Linked DNA regions of Homo sapiens: regions 2 and 3 are each linked to region 1. The links come from fine-mapping of genetic effects on gene expression. A gene starts in region 1. Each other region holds a variant in brackets. All regions are shown on one strand. Distances are from middle to middle. Region 1 holds the start of CRISPLD2 (cysteine rich secretory protein LCCL domain containing 2). Region 2 overlaps CRISPLD2 (cysteine rich secretory protein LCCL domain containing 2). Region 3 overlaps CRISPLD2 (cysteine rich secretory protein LCCL domain containing 2).

What was found. PIP is the estimated chance that this variant, and not a neighbour inherited with it, causes the effect.
Region 2: its variant is fine-mapped to the expression of CRISPLD2 in whole blood (TOPMed, PIP above 0.99).
Region 3: its variant is fine-mapped to the expression of CRISPLD2 in whole blood (TOPMed, PIP above 0.99).

Annotation. Positions count from the first base shown.
Region 1 is chr16:84,817,883-84,821,882 of GRCh38, reverse strand. CRISPLD2 (cysteine rich secretory protein LCCL domain containing 2) reads right to left here and starts at 1,898. Exons shown (of 15, transcript NM_031476.4): 1 at 1,750-1,898. RefSeq lists a silencer at 1,936-2,125.
Region 2 is chr16:84,902,862-84,906,861 of GRCh38, reverse strand. CRISPLD2 (cysteine rich secretory protein LCCL domain containing 2) reads right to left here. Exons shown (of 15, transcript NM_031476.4): 15 at 1-274. The coding sequence ends at 220. Among named protein-coding and RNA genes, the nearest start is that of LINC02176, 23 kb to the left of the region's middle. The variant T/C (reference allele first, on the strand shown) is at 1,516.
Region 3 is chr16:84,907,867-84,911,866 of GRCh38, reverse strand. CRISPLD2 (cysteine rich secretory protein LCCL domain containing 2) reads right to left here. Exons shown (of 15, transcript NM_031476.4): 15 at 2,359-4,000. Among named protein-coding and RNA genes, the nearest start is that of LINC02176, 18 kb to the left of the region's middle. RefSeq lists a silencer at 1,597-1,712. The variant A/T (reference allele first, on the strand shown) is at 1,828.

The sequences.
Region 1 (4,000 bases):
AGTGCCCAGCTAATAGAGCAGGCAGTGAGCTCATCCGTGGAAACCCTGGGCATGTCTGGTCTGTACTAAGCATCATGTAAATGTCAGCTGCTTGTATTATTACAAATGGCATTATTACTATTCCTACTCTCACATCTTAAGAAACTCTGAAAAAATCAAAATCACCCTCTTGGTTTCTCCTCCCTGGGTACATTGTCCAGTGGTTTTAACTGGAGCCCCTGTAAGACAAAACATCACCTGTGTGAAGGTCAGGTTCATGGGTGGAGTTGGCAGTGGGCAGGGAAGTGTCTTAAAGAAAGCAGGGTCAAGAGTGCAGATAGGACCCACCTGGGGGTGACAGCATTCCATACCAGCTGGGGGATCTTAGGCAAGCACTTCACCTTGCTGAGCCTCAGTTTCCTCAGCTGTGAAGTGGGCATCAAGAGGCCTACTCCCCGGGGTGTTGCAGCGATGACAATACAGGTAAACTGCGTGGCACAGACCGCGTGCCTGCCGCACAGGCAACACAGTCACACACCCACCCCTTCTCCTGAGTGGGAACAGCCAGATCAGGGGCAGAAGCAGAAAATCAGGTGCATACAACCCAAGGAGCCCTGGGACAGCCGACAGTCACAACTCATGGCCTCAGTCTACTGGAAAGGACCACGCCCCGGTCCTGTTCTGCAGGCTCTCCTCACTGTCAGACATCAGACCCTGGATGGGGAAAGCAGGCTCACCCCATTCTACCAGGGCAAGAGGTCCAAAGGCCCAAAGGGGAAACTCACAACCCCACTCTCGGTTGCAAGGCAAGCTAGGCATTTGCACGGGATGCTTCTCTCAGCCAGGGCAGCAACTCACATTTTGGCTGAGAGACGCCCAATTCAAGTTGGACTGCGATGAGCAGGCATCAGCGAAGTCCTCCCTGGCTTGTCCACCAGCCCAGCCTTAGCAAGGGAGGCTCTGGGTCTGCAGCACATGAGGGACTAGCCCTGGCTCTGTCCACGTGGGACGACCGATCTCCCCCACACTCCAGAGTGAGCCCTCCGCTTCCAGGGTAACTCTCCCCACGCAGGAGTTATGCAGGTGCCCGCTCTGGCTAAAGAAACCCAGAAACGTGTTCCCCCAGACTGCAGAACCCTGACATGGCCCCAAGTCTCTACACATCCATTTGAAGCTCTGGAGACAGACAGAGCTGGGTTCCAGCCCTGGCTCTGCCCGGACAACTTACTTCACCTCTCTGACCCTCAGCATCTTCATCTGAAATGTGGGAAGAAGGCTACCTTGCAAATGAAATCACAGAGGGGCGTGGCCCTCTAAACTGCAGCTGAATGCACATGCCACTAGATCACCCTGGTCCTCCAGACATGAGTAGGACACATTCTAATGCCTGCCATATCCATGCCATCAGCTTTCCAGTTATTGACACCCACTACGAACACAGGAATGCAACAAATGCTAGTGAACTGCACGAGGAAGGCAAGAGAGTAAACAGCCTCTAAGGAGCAGGATTCTGCGCTCAGATCGGCGTTGAATCCTGGGTCCTTGGAGTCCTGGCTGCGAGGTCCTGGACAAATGAGTTGTCCTCGCTGAGCCTCAGTTTCTCCATCTGCAAAAGGGCATGTCGCAAAGCTGTGTTCCGCTATGCAAGCAGAGCACTCGGTGTGGTGCCAGCACACAGTCAGCCCTGCGAGGTGGCATCTGTCCTAGTTATTCCAGCTTCTCGGGGGGGTAACAGTTTGCAAAAGGGAGAAGCATGGAAATCACACTTACCTCCGCAGGGCTCCAATCACCAGCTCGCTGGCGTCTCCCGCGTCCAGCAGACGCGGTAGCAGCGGCGACAGCGCGGGCACAGCAGGCACAGCGGGCACAGCGAGCAGACAGCTCAATAGGAGCAGCCGGAGACGCCCTGGGATGCGAGTGGGTGCCGGGGCTCAGCGTACCGCCTCTTGTAGGCTCCCCGGAGCCCGGAGGCCACGCCCCCAGATCGCTGGCGGCGCTGGTAGGACCGAGCATCACCGGCCCCGCCCCCGGCCCCGCCCCGCAGGCTCAGCGGGCTGAAGGAGGCGGGGGGCAGCTGAGGCGCGGGCGCCGGGTGGGCGAGGAAGGCGGGGCCGCTGGCCTCCAGGGCCGGCTAGGGACAAGGAGACGCTCAGCTCCCTCGCCACTGGCCACACAAGCATAGTTTTCATTGAGCGCTTACTATGCGCCTGGCGCGGTGCCAAGCGCTTCCCACAAGGGGCTTGCAAATTTACCAAACCCCAGCTCTCTGCAGCTCAACTGGAAAATAGGAATAAGGAGGCGACCTCCCAGGATTTTAGCAAATGAAATCCGCAAGGGCTGGGCGCTGTGAACTGTGGCGCGGTGCAGAGTACACAGTTACTGAGGTGACTCCCACCCTCTACACGTGCTCAGAAAACTTAGGCCCCCTCTTCCCAATTTGCAGACGAAGAAAGGGAGACTTGTTTCCGGATGGGGCCGCTAGCGCGGGGATCCAGGCTCCGCACTTTACCTTCAACGACCCTAGGACGCGTTCCCAGGAATCCAGGGAGGTGGAAATCACCTCATTTCACAGATCCAGTAGCTGAGGCTTGGAGAAGAGCGTGCCCCAAGTCCCGTAGCTAGGAGCAGTGCAGCATGTTCATATCTCTTTTGCCCGGAGGCATTTAGCATTTTTAACCTGTGCAGGTACATACGGAAATCAATTTAGAGCCAGACGAAATCACCTTTGAAACAGGTAAATCCACGTTCCTTAAGAGCTAAGGGACTGCCCCGTGCTCCCGCCTCAGTCACAAAATGTGGACGGGTATGCAGGCACTGCGCGGTAAGGTGCTGGGGCCCAAGGGCAGGAGGGGGCCTGTCCGCACTGCTCATCTCCGCACCAAGACACCGGAATTAGCTCCTCCAGCATTAACTCATTCCCCAAATACCCATCGAGTCGCTCTGTGCCGGGCCCTGTGCTATACAGCAGGCACAAACAAGACACCTCCGGGATCTCAGAGTCTGGGGCCCCCACGAGCTAGGGCACGTGGGAGAAACAAGGATGGGGAATGGGTGGAACAAGGACTATGGAAGGCTGCCTGCGTGACGTGGACTCAAACAGGGAAGGCTTGCCTAAGATTTTGGTGCGGCTCAAATGCAGATACAGAATAATGCAGACTGGCCGGGCGCGGTGGCTCACACCTGTAATCCCAGCACTGTGGGAGTTTGAGGCGGGCGGATCACCTGAGATCAGGAGTTCGAAACCATCCCGGCCAACATGGTGACACTGTCTCTACTAAAAATACAAAAATTAGCCGGGCATGGTGGTGCATGCCTGTAGTCCCAGCTACTTGGGAGGCTGAGGCAGGAGAATCGCTCGAACCTGAGAGGCAGAGGTTGCAGTGAGCTGAGATGGCGCCATTGCACTCTAGCCTAGGAGACAAGAACAAAACTCCATCTCAAAAAGATAATAATAATGCAGATGTTTTCTGTTATCTTTTTTTCCTCTTTTTGTTTTACTTTTCTCAGTCTTTGAAGCATCATTCTTCAGAGGCACTCAACTGGCATGCAGTCATCCAATAATTAAGCACCTACTATGTGCTGGGCTCTGTTTCAAGCACTGGAGGGCTCAGTAGTGAATAAGACTGTTCCAGAACAACAGTCCTTGGATTGACAAAAGACAAATCCAAGGGGAGAAGAGATCTGTGTTAGCAGATGCCTTTGGAGGCCTGGCACGATGGCTCAGGCCTGTAATCCCAGCACTTTGGGAGGCCCAGGCAGGTGGCTTGAGTTCAGGACCAGCCTGCAACATGATGAAATCCAGTTGCTACAAAAAGTAGCCAGCATGGTGGCATATGCCTGTGGTTCCAGCCACTCAGGAGGCTGAGGTGGGAGGATTGCCTGAGCCTGGGAGGTGGAGGTTGCAGTGAGCTGAAATCGAGCCACTGCATCCCAGCCTGGGTGACAGAGCAAGACCCTATTTCAAAACAAAACCAACCAACCAAACAAACAAACAACAACAAAACAGATGCCTCTGAGTACC
Region 2 (4,000 bases), 85 kb before region 1:
GATCAGGCACCAGGGAGTCCGGCTGAGCACCTTGGGATGCTGTTGCTTCAGTGAGGGGATGAGATGTCACCTCACCCACAGGCCACAAAGTGATGGACACTGAACATCAGTCAAAGGAAGTTTCCTGACTCTCCATATACCCCGCAATGACAAAATAAAAATAAAAGCAAAACCCCGAAGCCCTCCTGAAGACGCCCCTTCTCCCCTGGTGCTGGAAATTCACTGCCTGACAGCAAAGATCCGGAAGGCCTTTCCATCCCGAGGAGTCCCCAGGCTGAAAAAAAGAAGAAAGAGGGCCCGTTACTGAGAGATCTGGAGGGCCTCCTGCAGGGACTCTGGGTGGGCAGGGAGACCTGGGTGCCTCCTGCTTGCTCCCGTAGTGGAAGAGCCATGGCCAAGGGACACTTCCTTGAAGCCGCCAGACACAGAGCCTGCCTTGAGTTGAGAACAGGTGGCAAATCCCATTTTCTCTGCACATGAGCATCCATCTGATTCTAGGTCAAGGCTGTTAAGTTATTTCCTTTTAACTCAGGGATCTGCTGGACCCAGTCTGTCTGGATTGGACTCACCCTCCGAGAATTCTGCTTGGTTTCACTACCACCTGTCAACCCGAACAGTGGTGTCTTGGGAGAGATGAACAGGTGCTATCTCAGCACTACTGCATATGCCAGGTGCTTCACCGCCTTCCACCTTCCTCCTGAGGGAGCTGTTATCGCTCGTTCACAGGGGAGGAAACGGAGACACCAGGAAATAAAGAGATTTACCCAGGGTCCCATGGCTAGTAAAAACTGCCCTCTCACAAGAGGAGTTAAATCCTTCAGCTAATCAAAGATGGTTTTTAAAAAAGAGCTTTAGGCCAGGCGCGGTGGCTCATGCCTGTAACCTCAGCACTTTGGGAGTGAGGCGGGTGGACCACCTGAGGTCAGGAGTTCGAGACCAGCCTGGCCAACATGGTGAAACCCCATCTCTACGAAAAATACAAAAATTAGCCGGATGTGGTGGCAGGCGCCTGTAATCCCAGCTACTCGGGAGGCTGAGGCAGAAGAATCACTTGAACCTGGGAGGCGGAGGATGCAGTGAGCCAAGATCAAGGCATTGCACTCCAGCCTGGGGGACAAGAGTAAGACTTTGTCTCCAAAAAAAAAAAAAAAAAAGAGCTTTATTGGTCAGGCACGGTGGCTCACACCTCACACCTGGAATCCCAGCACTTTGGGAGGCCAAGGCAGGTGGATCACTTGAGGTCTGGAATTCGAGACCAGTCTGGCCAACATGGTGAAACCCTGCCTCTACAAACAATTAGCCAGGCATGATGGTGTGCACCTGTAATCCCAGCTAGTTGAAGGTTGAGGCAGGAGAATCACTTGAACGTGGGAGGTGGAGTGTGCAGTGAGCCAAGATTCTGCCACTGCACTCCAGCCTGGGCAAGAGAGTGAGACTCTGTTTCAAAAAACAAAAAAAAAACCAAACCAACTTTATTAAGTTTAACATACCGTATAAACTCAACCTTTCTAAGTG[T/C]ACAATTCAATGGTTTTTAGAGATTTTATAGAGTTGTGCAGTCATCTCCACAATCCAGTGTTAGACAATTTTTAAAAATTGTTTTAGACACAAGGTCTGTCACCAAGGCCAGAGTGCAGTGGCATGATCGTGGCTTACTTCAGCCTTGACCTCCTGAGTGCAAGCGATCCTCCCTCCTCAGCCTCCTGAGCAGCATGTCACCAAGCCTGATTGATATATTTTATTTTTTGTACAGATGGAGTCTCACTATGTTGCCCAGGCTGGTCTCAAACTCCTGGGCCCAAGTGATCCTCCTGCCTCAGCCTCCCAAAGTGCTGGGATTATGGGTGTGAGCCACCGTGCCTGGCCTAATGGTGTCTTTTAAGGCATAAAAGTTTTAAACTTTGATAGAATACAATTTATCAATTTGTTTTCATTTATAGATTGTGCTTTTGGCGTCATATCTAGCAAACCATCCAAGGTCATGAAGGATTTATACTTGTTTTCTCAGACATCTGTAATTTTTAGCTCTTACATTTCAGCCTTGGATCCATTTTGAGTTAATTTTTATATATAGTGTGAGGCAAAGGTCCAACATCACAGTTTTACTTGTAAATATCTAATTGCCCTTGCATCATTTGTTGAGAAATTATTCTCTGCCCACTGAATGGTCCTGGCACCGATGTCAAAATCAATTGACTGGAAGTGTGATGATTTATTTTATGGACTTCCAATCATTTTTTTTTTTAATTTTTTTTTTAAATTTTTTTTTTTACCTTTTTTTGAGACCGAGTCTCGCTCTGTTGCCCAGGCTGGAGTACAGTGGTGCAATCTTGGCTCACTGCAACCTCTGCTTCCCAGGTTCAAGTGATTCTCTGGCCTCAGCCTCCCAAGTAGCTGGGATTACAGGTGCACACCACCACGCGGGGCTAATTTTTGTATTTTTAGCAGAGATGGGGTTTTGCCATGTTGGCCAGGCTGCTCTGGAACTCCTGACTTCGTGATCCTCCCCTCCTTGGCCTCCCAAAGTGCTGGGATTTCAGGCGTAAGCCACCGTACCAGGCCCAATCACGTTCTCTTAATCTCTGTGTCTGTCCTGATGTCAGCACCACCATCTTGATCACTGTCGCTGTATAGGATGTTTCAGAATTGGGAAGCCTAAGTGCCCCCTCCCGCTTTGCTCCTCTTGCTGTGGGCACAGCCTTCTAGAACACCAGGGACGCCTGGGAGCCTACCAAGGGCCACCACGGCTGTCTCATTCTCTAGATCCTCCCTGATTTTCTGCCCCAGATGATAACTGCACCTTTGGACCAACTGGCCTTCCTGTGTCTTGGCCACCAGGTTTGATACTGTTCCTGACAATGGCCAGAGGTGTGTGGTTTTCCTCGCTCTGCTTCAAATCAAGAAAGCCGCTGGATGGCACAGCCCCACCCCAGTAGAACTTCCAGCCACAGGAGCTGGTGGGGTGAACAGGAGCGGTCCCAGGCTCAGACACCACAGATCCCTCTGTTCTTATCTGAGGTCCACACTTTTTTGAACAAACACCTCCCTGTTCGTTGTATGACTCTGTGGTGTATTTCTGGAGTCCTGAAACAGCTGTTTTTGAACACTGCTTTTGGGAATAAGATTTCCCATGCATCCTGCTTTGGCATTCTGCAAATCTCACCTCTGGAGCATGTCTTCCAGACGCGAGTCTCCATCCCTACACTAACGTTTAGTAACTGTGTGACAAAGTCACTAAGTCTCTTTGGGCTTTTTTTTTTTTTTTTAAATTTTAAGACAGAGTCTCGCCCTGTTGCCCAGGCTGGAGTGCAACGGTGTGATCTCGGCTCATTGCAACCGCCGCCTCCCAGGTTCAAGCGATTCTCCTGCCTCAGCCTCTCAACTAGCTGGAATTACAGGCATGCGCCACCACACCCAGCTAATTTTTGTATTTTTTGTAGAGATGGGGTGTCACCATATTGGCCAGGCTGGTCTCTTGGCCGGGCTGGTCTCAAACGCCTGAGCTCATGATCCGCCTGCCTCGGCCTCCCAAAGTGCTGGGATTACAGGCTTCTAAGGATACTTTCCGGAATGTTCTGTGACAGTGCCGATGTTGGGGGTACCTGGGTTCTTGGGGGAGGTCCAGGAAGGGGCCAGGCTGGAGAGGAGACCCGGAAGGTGGGAGGAGGGGAGCATTAAATTGACGGGAGGCCATTGTTTTGGACTGGGCTAGGCCCAACAGACCAAACCAAATCAGATCGGAGTCACCCTGCTAGGTGCCACCTCATCAAACTGAACTTAGAAATGGGCTGGTTTTAGGCCAGGCACGGTGGATCATTCCTGTAATCCCAGCACTTTGGGAGGCTGAGGTGGGCAGATCACTTGAAGTCAGGAGTTCGAGACCAGCCTGCTCAACACAGTGAAACCCCTACTAAAAATACAAAAATTAGCTGGCTGTGGTGGCAGGCACCAGTAATCCCAGCTACCTGGGAGGCTGAGGCAGGAGAATCGCTTGAACCCAGGA
Region 3 (4,000 bases), 90 kb before region 1:
GGGGTAGAAGGCAGGAGAGCAGTGGCTGAAGCAGTGAAGGCCTGGGAGACACTTTTAGAGGAGAAAACAGTGCAGGGAATGCCAAATGCATTGGTCAAAATAATGATATTAGGAGCAGTAACCATCTGTATGTCGCAGGACAAATGCCATACGCTGAGGATGCTGTGGGCAGAGCCGGAAGTGTTTCGCAAACTTCAGCCCTTATTATCCAATCTTGGTGATTTTTGCAATTGACCTGCACAATCTTAACTTACTCAACATTTTAAAATGGACATTTTAAAAGCCTGGTATTTCTTAAAGAGGAAAGCTATCCCCATCACGCATGGAAAAGGACCGCACTAGAGATGAGCCTGAGAGGAAGGCAGGCGCCTTCACCGGGGAGAGGAAAGGCCGGCCCCGTGCCCCCAAATTGCTCTGGGGCTTTGGTGCATTGAGGCACTCAGCGAGATGTGACTGCGCTTGGTGAAAAGGGGCTGCTTTGGGCTGATGCCTGGGAAGAAGGTGACCGTTACGAACTAAATTTCCCACCCTGAACACATAGGGTTTTCTTTGTTTGTTTTGTTTTTGAGATAAAGTCTCACTGTATTGCCCAGGCTGGAGTGCAGTGGCGCGATCTCGGCTCACCACAACCTCCTCCTCCTGGGTTCAAGCCATTCTCCTGCCTCAGCTTCCCAAGTAGCTGGGATTACAGGCGTGCACCACCACGCCTGGCTAATTTTTGTATTTGTAGTAGAGATGGGGTTTCACCATATTGGCCAGGCTGGTCTCGAACGCCTGACCTCAAGCAATTCACCCACCTCGGCCTCCCAAAGTGCTGAGATTACAGACACGAGCCACTGTGCCCGGCCCACAGGGCTTTGAAATGATTCCAGACACCTCCACAGGTTGCTACGTGGGTGACGCGTTTTGCTGCGCTAAGAACTTGGTGTGCCCCTTCTTCCCTGGAGAATGTGGCCTCACCCCTTATCGGACCCCGTCTGCGAGCTCCTGACCCTCACGACTGGACTTCCATACACATGCAAACCTGCCAGTGGGACGGACCCTTTGGGAGCTCTGGCTGTGGCCGGCTGCACCCTCGGCATCTTCTCCCAAAGCTGGGAGCTCCAGCTGTGACAGGTCACCCCGCCAGCCTTGGAGCTACTCTCAGAAGCCTCTGGCCAGCGCTGGAACTGCCTTCTAGGGACCTTACAGCGCTTCCAAGAACGGCTGGTAGAAGGTGCACCTCAAACTGAGGCCTGCTTCCATCCTAAGTGAGCAAGTAGGCCTTGATCATTCTGGAACTGACCCACTGTGGGGTTAATGGGCTTCGTCTGTCGAGTGTATTCTCTGTGAGGTTTGGTCTCATTCTCTCCCTGTTTAAGCACTGGGAACCTAAGGAAAAAACATCTTTGTGTAGCAATAAACTGTGTGATTTGTGAAATCGTACTTTGATCATTTCCTTATTGTAACCACACAAAACGATCCCTAACCCCCAATGTATTTCTTTCGTGTGTGTGTGTGTGTGTGTGTGTGTGTGTGTCTCGCTCTGTCACTCAGGCTGGAGTGCAGTGGTGTCATCTTGGCTCTCTGCAACCTCTGCCTCCCAGGGTCAAGCAATTCTCCTGCCTCAGCCTCCCAAGTAGCTGGGACTACATGCATGCGCCACCATGCCCGGCAAATTTTTGTATTTTTTTTGTAGAGATAAGGTTTCCCCATGTTGCCCAGACTGCTCTTGAACTCTTGGACTCAAGTGATCCTCCTGCCTCAGCTTCCCAAAGTGCTGGGATTACAGGCATGAGCCAGCCTGTGTATTTCAAGGTAGGGCCTTTAAGGAGGTAATTCAGGTTA[A/T]ATGGGTCCTAAGGGTGGGGCCCAGACCCAATATGACCGGTGTCCTTATAAGAGAGAGAGAGAGACACCAGGAGTGTACATGCCCAGAGGAAAGGCCATGTGAGGACACGGCCAGGGGCAGCCACCTGCAAACCAAAGAGAGGCCGCAGAGGAAACCAACGCTGCTGGCACCCTGATCTTAGACTTCCAGCCTCCAGAACTGTGAGGAAGATATCTCTGTGGGTTAAGTCACCCAGTCTATGGTATTTTGTTAGGGCAGCCGGAGCTTAGACAGAATGGCCTTGAGCCCACCACCACTCAGAGTGTGATCTGGGGACTGGCAGCATTCGCATCACCAGGATCTTGGGAGAAATTCACAGTCCCTGGCCCCAACCCAGCCTTGCTGAGCCCGAAATTGCATTTTGGCAAGCTCCTCCCTCCTTCCCGCGGATGGGGTGGAGGTCTCCACCAGGCCCTGGCTGTCAGCATCTCTGTGTATATGAGACATCCTAGCAGAAGCAGCCAACACAAAACAGTCCAGAGCCTGAAAGATGGTTTTCAATGTTTTATTTCACAAATTGTTCAGATTTGTTCATAAAAGATATGTTACAGGAACATTTTAGAAATCAAACCAGTTCTACTGAAACAATTGCAACAACGTGGCCCCTGTTCATGCAAAGCACAAAAAACATTTACAATAAAACTTTGTACACAGGAAGTAGCAAAATACATCATTTTTCATAGAAAAAAGCACACACATAAACTGCGGGCTGAGTGAGCCTACAGACAATATGAGAAACCAGCACACGCTTTGGAATACGGTAGGGCAAAACTCCTAAGGAAGCCGAAAATGTTCATCCTGTGGGCAGGAGAGCCAGGAACGCCGTTGGCTTGGTACAAGATCTTTTTAAACACAGGGTAAGTGTTGGTAGCACGAGGGGCCTCTATTCCACACACAGGAGAGGTGGTGCTAGGGACAGGGCTTATCATTTATAGTCTTGTTTCCATTTTCTGAAGACAAATATTCCAGTTTCAAAATGTTTGTGGGGATGATAAAGACAGCCAGGTCCATGGCCGGGCGCAGTGGCTCATGCCTGTAATCCCAGCACTTCGGGAGGCCAAGGTGGGTGGATCACCTGAGGTAAGGAGTTCGAGACCAGCCTGGCCAACATAATGAAACCCCATCTCTACTAAAAATACAAAAATTAGCCGGGCATGGTAGCTCACGCCTGTAGTCCCAGGTACTTGGGAGGCTGATGCATGAGAATTGCTTGAACCCGGGAGGCGGCAGTTGCAATGAGCAGAGATCACGCCACTGCACTCTACCTTGGGCAACAGAGTGAAACTTGGTCTCGGGAAAAAAAAAAAAAAAAAAAAAAAGACAGCCAGGTCCTGCTCTGGGCAAGGACTTTCTATCCTGCTAGGAAGGCCCAGTGAAGGAGGCATTAAGGAACCCGGGGACTTTATTTTTAAATGATGGGGTCAACTCACACTGGAAGTTTCAAGTCTCCCTTGAGTGGGATGCTTTGGAAGCGAGCCCACTGGGATCGTCCTGGACCCTTCACTAATTCTGCAAACCCCACAGGGCGATCTAATTTATCTTGCAGACACAGACACAGCCACAAAAGTCCAGCAGCAGAGCACCCAGCACCCAGAAGTTTCCCAGATGTTTGGTGGTAACTGGACTCACGACCTGACAGGCTGACCGAATTCTTCCTCTCCGACATTTGGGGCTGAGGAGTCAGTACCTATGAATTACGACTAGACTACAATGCACAAAGCACGTAGTCCTGTGAATTTTAGCTCAGTCAAGCTAAGAGTTGAACTGCTTTTTACCAACTCCTTAAAGGGGTGGGTTTTTGTTTTGTTTTAAACCTATTTACCTTCAGATTCTGCATTTATTAGAAAGGCAATCAAAGAAAGAAGGCATCACCTAGGTGCCCAGGTAGAATTTCTTGTCCAGTCTACAGTATCTTAGTTTTTGACTTTCTGCTAGTTCTTTCACCTAAGAAATATTTTGAATCAAATTTGAAACTAGCATTCACCAAAGTGATCTATTGGCTGGCCCGGTGGTAGAGAGTGGAATTTTCACCTTCTGCAAAAAAATGCTATTTACAAAAGGGTACTTCATTTCACTGTGGGCTTTTGGTCTGGGCTCATGAAGCACTTTTATAGAGTGATGGCAGCCAGGGTG